Regions from separate parts of the Homo sapiens genome. Here region 1 is linked to region 2. Evidence: fine-mapped expression QTL. Tissue or cell type: nasal epithelium. Region 2 holds a variant in brackets; the other region holds the start of a gene. All regions are shown on one strand. Distances are between the middles of the regions.

What was found. PIP is the estimated chance that this variant, and not a neighbour inherited with it, causes the effect.
Region 1: DNAH5 starts here. The variant in region 2 is fine-mapped to the expression of DNAH5 in nasal epithelium (TOPMed, PIP above 0.99).

The regions. Positions count from the first base shown.
Region 1 is chr5:13,943,037-13,947,036 of GRCh38, reverse strand. It overlaps DNAH5 (dynein axonemal heavy chain 5), which reads left to right and starts at 2,349. Exons shown (of 79, transcript NM_001369.3): 1 at 2,349-2,655. The coding sequence starts at 2,599.
Region 2 is chr5:13,737,256-13,741,255 of GRCh38, reverse strand. DNAH5 (dynein axonemal heavy chain 5) reads left to right here. Exons shown (of 79, transcript NM_001369.3): 66 at 3,761-4,000. Among named protein-coding and RNA genes, the nearest start is that of DNAH5-AS1, 120 kb to the left of the region's middle. The variant C/A (reference allele first, on the strand shown) is at 1,645.

The DNA.
Region 1 (4,000 bases), 210 kb before region 2:
TGTGAAATCAGAATGCACCTTAAAATGGATATGTTGAATAGGCAGCATTATTTTTTCATTCCGAGTGTTGCATAGGATAATTATGCATTCTACAATTAATATTTTTAAATGTCTGAGTAAACATCTGTTTTTATTAGCTGTTCTATTCATAGTGTATAGCGCAGCGTCTGGCTGCGTAAAAGGCACTCACGAGCTTTTGTTCAATGAATGAAAGTGGAACTTCAAACTTTGCCTGCAGGTACTTGGATTTCTGGATGAAGCCTTCCGCCCACATGAGGTCCATTGTCTACTCTTGTTTTCCCATTATGTCTGACAGGATTTGTGTATGACCAATATTTTCAGCCTGGAAGGGTGTACTATCCGCACAGACGGGGCTGCAGACCTCCCTCGTGTGAGTCCTATATATAGAGCCCTGCCAGCTGAAGCTCTTGCCTGGTGGAAACTATTTGTAGGCAAGCCTTTCTGAGTTTCCTACCGAACAATGTTTGATCATTTCCCTCCAAATGCCAGAAATTGACTTTCATTCTGGCAGGGGCTGGCGGGGGTAGGTGGCCTGTTGTAAATTCAGCCTTGGCTTGCTTTGTTTGTGTTGTTCAACAACTTCCAGTGAGCCTGAGCGCTCAAGAAGATACCTTAAGACGCCATCTACCTTGCCCGAGGGGTTGAAATTCAGCCACACAGACTGGAAGGCTTCCCGGTTTGCTGTGAAGCCTCAAGGGAGTCATGGTTATGCCTGCCAAACACAAAATGCATGCCATCAGCCATCTGTGGAAATCTTCCCAGGAAGTAACTCTCCCCAAGCGATGCGTTGTAAATGGGCTGCTGCTGCAATGAGGATGGTGCCTAAAATACCATTAGGGAAGCACCGATTCAAATGTAACTAATGAAAGATAATCGGCGATGTAATGAATTGTAACATGTTTGTCCTGAGGTCATGTGTTGACAGAGGATTCTTGGGATGGATAGGAGATGCCATGTGAGGAGGATCCGATCCTACTGCTATTTTCTGGTGTCTTCAGCACCACACAGAGAAGGGACTCAGAGTCTAGATACTGTCTTCAACACTTTTTATTAGAAACGGACAACAGCCGCTTACCAACAACCAGAGGTTGACTTCAACAAATATCCTGCAGGGCCTGGCCTGGTGGCTCATGCGTATAATCCCAGCACTTTGGGAGGCCGAGGTGGGCAATTGCTTGAGGCCAGGAGTTTGAGACCAGCCTGGGCAATGTGGCCAAACCTGTTTCTACAAAAAATACAAAAATTAGCCGCGTGTTGTGACACTTGCCTGTAGTCCCAGTTACTAGGAAGGCTGAGGTGGGAGGATCACCTGAGCCTGGGAGGTTGAGGCTGTGGTGAGTGGTGGTCACGCAACTGCACTCCAGCCTGTGTGACAGAGTGAGACCTGCAGGTCTCAAAAAAGAAAAAAAAAATCCTGCAAACAAACTTAAACTTCCTGTGTTCTAGTTATTTACTTACCAAATAATATTGAGGTCTAAATGTTGTCTGTTAACCTGACATATGGAGGCCGTCCGTGCCCTAGCATTGGATATGGACCAAGTGAATCTCCATGTTCTGAAACCATGTCAGCACCCTGCCTTCCAAGTCAGGCTCCACAGAGGTTGACTAGCAGGATGTTACCAGGATGAGTTCCCAATTTCCTGATTATCCTTGGATGACCTTTTAGGATTTGAGTTGCTGGACTGTGAATTCCAAGGACTAAATTCTAGATTCAACAAGACCAACCTTAAGTGTCCTGCCTTTTATTCAACTCGATGGGAGAAACCATACATGAGAGATCTCTCAAAGCATTTGGCAGTGTTTTCCCATTACATCTTCACAGTTAAGATGATCAAGATGTTTAGCCACATAGGATAAATTACCTTGGCTGAAGTGTATGTGCAACTGTGTGAGCACAAGTAATTTATGGACATGGTTTGCTATTTGCATATGAAACAGACTTCTTGTTCTTTGTGGTGGAGAAAATGGCTCCTATGGGTCACAATTAGCCTATCTGGCAATTAGTCACAATTAGTCACAATGCTGGCAGTGCATCGTGCTTGCAAAGTTGTTTACACAAAGTAAGACTGAGTTTCTCGACATGGACAATATATTCAGAGCTGTGGCTTCTTGGATTTCTAATCTGATATGGTTTAAAGTTTCTCATTGTTCAAAGAAACTATTTAGATATCACTGTTGACTCAATGCTTATTATTGGGCAGTGAATAGAATTAATTGAACAACAGAAGGAGTTGTGTTGCTACCGAGCAGTTAAAATGCTTTGATTGCTTGATAAACATGATTAAGAGGCATGGTTCAACTGTATAGTGTATAAACAATATTACCCTAACAACACCAGGCTTCGAGAGAGAGGAGAGGCCCAGGGCAGACACTCTAGGAGAAAAACTTGAGTGGTATAAGTGGAGTTTTAATTTTTATTCTGTGAATGTAGTGAATAATACATGCAAATTAGAAACGTGAAAGTAAAATGGAAGTAAAACTTTCCATTTGGAAGCCTGTTGGATGTTGAGCAGGTCTGCCAGGAGTTAGAAGACCATTCCGGAAGAGCTGACTCCAGCCTGTCCATGCACGGCTACAATGTTTAGGATTGGGAGGAGACAGCTCTGGAAGCATAGCGTCACTCGAGTTTTAACGGTAAGGTGCTGTTGTCTGTACCTTTGCATGTGTGTTTTGGATTATCATCTGTCACACCTGGGTGGAAAAAACAAACTTGAAAAAGGTTCAAAGTCACACACTGATGAATTTGCGAGAAACACATTTTTTAACTAATGTTCACCTGGTGCATAGGCTACATATTCATTTTTTAAATAAAAAAAATTTTGCATCTGTAGGCTTTTCTGCACGTTGCCGCTTAAACTACGCACCTAGAAATTCATGCTGCATCTTTTGGGAAGATGCTTTCCTGGGGTCAAAAACACATTCATAGTGGTTTGGGCACTTTGTATTCTTTCAAACCTGTAAACTTTAGTTGGTGATTAGAAATAGTTAAGGCAGATTCTAGGCTGCAAGGTTTAGGCTTTGAAATCACTCCCCTGTTCTATATGCCTGCAAATGAGGTCACAGACAGTGAGATGCAAGGCTGTGCCTTTGGAAATCACATTGAAGAATGAACTTCCCTAGCACAGGGCTCAGCTCAGCAGCTTTTTATTATGCAAATGCATAGAGAGGGATTTGGAAACCTCTTCCACTGCCAATTAACGTCAGAAGAAATTGGAGGTTTCTCTAGGACTCAGTTCTCAACCATTAACCCATGCTTCCTACTGGGCTTGATCACTGTGTCTTTTTGTGTATCCCCAGAAGCTCACATGATCCCCCCTAGCCTGTTGTTTTTACCACAAAAGAGCAGGCATCTACCTCTGAATTTTTTAAGTATGCCACCATCTGCCACCCCTCACTTGCCCAAGCCACAAGATTCTGATGCATCCTTCCCAAGGTGAACGTCTTGCAGCCAAGCCCCTGAACTTGCTTGCTAGAGTTAGAAGACCATTCTGGAAGAGCTGACTCCAGCCAGTCCATGCACTGCTTATTCTTCAAGACCAAGTGCTAGTGTTACCTCCTCTGAGAAGCGTCCCCTGACACTTTGAGGAGGAGGTGTGAGTTTCCTTCCTGTACCCTGTCAGCACTTTCCTTCGATGTCTTATAGAGTCCTTGTCACATCACTGTAGTGAAATGACATTTACCCACATGTCTCTTTCTCTTGCTAGATTGCGAGTTCTCTCCATTTTAAAATAATCTTCCTTTAACACAGAGCTTGGTCCATAGTATATGCTTGGTCCTTAATATATGCTTGTGGAATAAGTTGAATGAATTAAACATTTCACATGTCTGAACATTTTTCCTGTGCTTCAGTACCAAGTCTGAAACACCACAATTGATGATAAAATCTCAGGTATAATTAATGAATTATTCTTCCTTGACATGAACTATGTTTTGAGAGTAAGTCAAGTCTTTTGGAGGTTTCAATTATATATTTAGGATG
Region 2 (4,000 bases):
TAACCATTCAATCAGTGGTGATTAACTGGCTGAAACATAAAGCAGAGGCCAGGGGTCTTTGCTGTTTGCCTTCATGCAGTTTTGTTAACACCTCCTTTATTTTTAATGTCATGGTTTTCAGAGATTGAGCATTTCCACATCTGCATTTCTGGCACAAAGACTAGATTTTCCAGTTCACTGTGTGTTTCAGTTTATCAATTTGAAAAGAGATGCAACATTTAATCATTCAATCTGCAGTGTTAATGGAGTGCCTACTACGTACCAGGCTTTGTTTCACTAATTTAGGAATTTATCAATGAACAAAATAGACTAACAGACCAAACTATCCCTGGAGCATAACATATAAATAATTTATGTATTATGTTAGAAGGTGGTAAATGCCATAAAAGGTACAGACACTGGTGAGCGGGAGAGCTGGGGAGTCAGCTGGTGGGCTAGCATTTTAAAGAGGGTGGTCACAGTGGGGCTTACTGAGAATGTGACATTTGAGGAAGACTTGAATAAGGGAAGAGAGTGAGTTATTTGGAAGAACAGACCTGACAGAGCAGCAGCTAATGCAGAGGCCCTGAGGCAAGAGAGTTCCTTGTGTGTTTAAGACAGTGAGTCTCAAAGCATGTTTCCTGGAATAGCAGCATCACATCACATGGGATTAGAAGTGCAAATTCCCAGATGCTGTTCCAGGCCTACAGCACAAGCCTTCCAGGTGATCCTAATGCACTGAAATTTGAAAACCACTGATGTAGGAAATAGCAAACGTGGCTAGAGCAAAGTGAAAAAGGGGAGAAAAGTAGGAAATGAAGTCCCAGCAGTAATGAAGGAGGGGGCAGCTTGGTAGAGCCTTATAGGCCTTGGTAAGGTCTTTACCTTTCACTCTGAGTGGAAAGATTGGCCACTGGAGGGTTTTGAGAGAGGAAGTATGTTTTAGTAGCATCATTCTGACTGCTGGGCTGGGAGTAGACCAGGGGGTAAGGCTGGGGTAGGGAGACCTGTTTAGACCTCCTAATTTAGAGGGGGGTGACAATGATAGTTTAAACCAGGGTGGTGATAGTGGAGGGAGTGAGAAATGATTAGATTCTGAATCTCATTTTGAAGTGGAGGTCATAGAACTTGCCAATGAATTTGTTGTTGAATTTGAGGAGAAGAAAGTGACCAAGCAGGGTTCAAAGGTTTTGGCCAGAGCATCTAGAAGAATAGTGTTGCCATTTGCTGGGCTGTGGAAGGGTGAGGTTGAGCATGTTTGAAGGGAGGATCAGACGTTTAGTTTTGCTGATGGTGCTAAGTAGGAGAAGTCTCTTAGATGTCCAAGTGGAGAGTTGAAAGGAGGTATGATCTGAAGCTGAGATATAAACTTGGGAGTCATCAGCATAGCGATACTGTTTAAAACAAAATGTAATTCATGGAGTAGTATGGGGATAAGTTTCTCGTAAGCATAAACTAAGTACTAAAAATGAATAATTGTAAGAGCCACTAAAGGGAAGAACTTGCGTAATGGTTAACAGTGACGGTTTGGGCTGGGTCTGGCCTCTCCTTTCCCTCCATGTCTGTGTGCATACCGGATCATAACAAAGGTAAATTGTGTAATTAATCATGTAATCAGTGAATAGTCCATTATGTTTTATATGGTTTCATATGATTCATCACTGC[C/A]TCACTCTAGATTTCTGGCTCTCTCAATAGGGAGTAGAATCTATAAAACCTACTGTATTAGTCCATTCTCTCACTGGTATGAAGAAATACCCGAGACTGGGTAATTTATAAAGGAAAGAGGTTTAATTGACTCACAGTTCTGCATGGCTGGGGAGGCCTCAGGAAACTTACAATCATGGCGGAAGGCAAAGGAGAAGCAGGGACCTTCTTCACAGGGTGGCAAGACAGAGTGAGTACAAGCAGGGGAAGTGCCAGATGCTGATAAAACCATCAGATCTTGTGAGAATTCACTCACTGTTATGAGAACAGCATGGGGGAAACTGCCCTCATGACCCCATTACCTTTACCTGGTGCCACCCTTGACACTTGGGGATTGTGGGGATTACAATTCAAGGTGAGATTTGAGTGGGGGCACAGAGCCAAACCATATCACCTACTGAGTCATATCCAGAGTACCCAATTGAGAATGTAGATTTCTGAAGCTGGTCTAGAGATGTGAGCTTGGTACCATACGTTCAGGTAGCTGCCGTGAGTCCAGTCAGAACTGTCAAACGCACTGTCAAAATCACAGGTAAAGCTCCTGTGATTTTGCTGTTTGTCACCTGCACTTAACCCTGGTTTCCCCGTATTTTACTTATAATGAATTGTACATTATAAACGCAGTTAAACATAGGCAAATTGTCAATGGACTCCACATCCAGGAAGCTCTTCAAATAAACTCTCTAATACATAAGTTTCATTTTAAATTTGTACGTATCATTTTATTGTTCTTTCCATTTTTGATTCTTTTCTTTAGCATCACAGATAGAGTCTCTCATATAGCAAGTTGATATCCATGTACAATTTGACTTGGTGCCAGAAGCATATTTCTGTTTTGTCTCCCTGCCTTTGGGCTTCCTCTTCCTGTGGCTTGCTTGGTGTCACACGTATTTCTCCTTCTCCCACCCCTGCCACCACCTCCATCTTTTCTGTCCTTCTCTTCCTCTGTCTCTCCCTCTCCAAGCTGCCAAGAGGAAGAAAAGGCCAATAAGGATAATAGTCTTCCAAGGCTTCACTCTCCCAGCTGTCTCCAAAGCTCCCTCAGAAAAGATGCAAAACTTTTCTGCTTTTGGAGAGAACAGCAGGCCAAGAAGACTTTTCAATTTAAACGTGCTCACAGTTGCAGCTCAGTTGCTTGCCTAAGATTTCGGAGAGTAGTTTTTCACAGACTTGGATACTTTTTCAATTAGCAAGTTTGAAATAACCACATTTAAACAATAATGGAACTCTCTTAAGAAAGTAGACAGAAGTAAACCTATTTAATCAGAGATATATATCTTTGTCTTCAAATATATTTCCCCTTCAAAAGAAGATTTTATATATATAATATTAAATATAATCACAGCAATCACTTGAAACTGATGTGACTTGAGAAAATAAATGGGTGATTAAAGGGATGCTGGTAGTATTTTTTGCAGGTTTCATGTTGCTTGGCACCTATTCTTCCTTCCTCTGTTACTTCTCCTCCTCCTTTTTTTTTTTTTTAACATTTTATTTTTTATTTTATTTTATGTTAGAGTCTCACTCTGTTGTCCAGGCTGGAGTGCAGTTGCATGATCTCAGCTCACTGCAACCTCTGCCTCCCTGGCTCAAGGGATTCTCCTGCTTCAGCTTCCCAAGCAGCTGGGACTACAGGCATGAGCCACCATGCCCAGATAATTTTTTTGTATTTTAGTAGAGACAGGTTTTCACTATGTTGGCCAGGCTGGTCTCAAACTCCTGACCTCAAATGATCCACCCGCCTCTGCCTCCTAAAGTGCTGGGACTACAGGTATGCGCCACCACGCCCAGCTATTTTTTTTTGTATTTTAGTAGAGATGGGGTTTTACCATGTTGACCAGGCTAGTCTCGAACTTTCGACTTCAAATGATCCACCCGCCTCTGCCTCCCAAAGTGCTGGGATTACAGGTGTGAGCCCCTGCGCCCGGCCCTTCTTTTTTGATGTCCATATTTCCTGCAGTTGATTATGATAAATACAGTATGGGAGCTTCAAAGCAGCCATGTAGGTTAACGTCTTAAGGAATACTCAACAAGAGTTGTTAATTGAGGTAGAAAATATATTTATGCAAATTAATAGGAATTGGAGAAAGAAAGAACTCATCTGATGGAAGATGTAACTGCAAACAAAAGAAGGATGAAGGAACTAGAAGATAACTTGCTTTACCGCCTGACAAGTACCCAGGGGTCCCTGGTAGAAGATGAAAGTCTCATTGTCGTGCTGAGTAACACAAAAAGGACAGCCGAGGAGGTGACACAGAAGCTAGAAATTTCTGCTGAGACAGAAGTTCAAATTAACTCAGCCCGGGAGGAATACAGA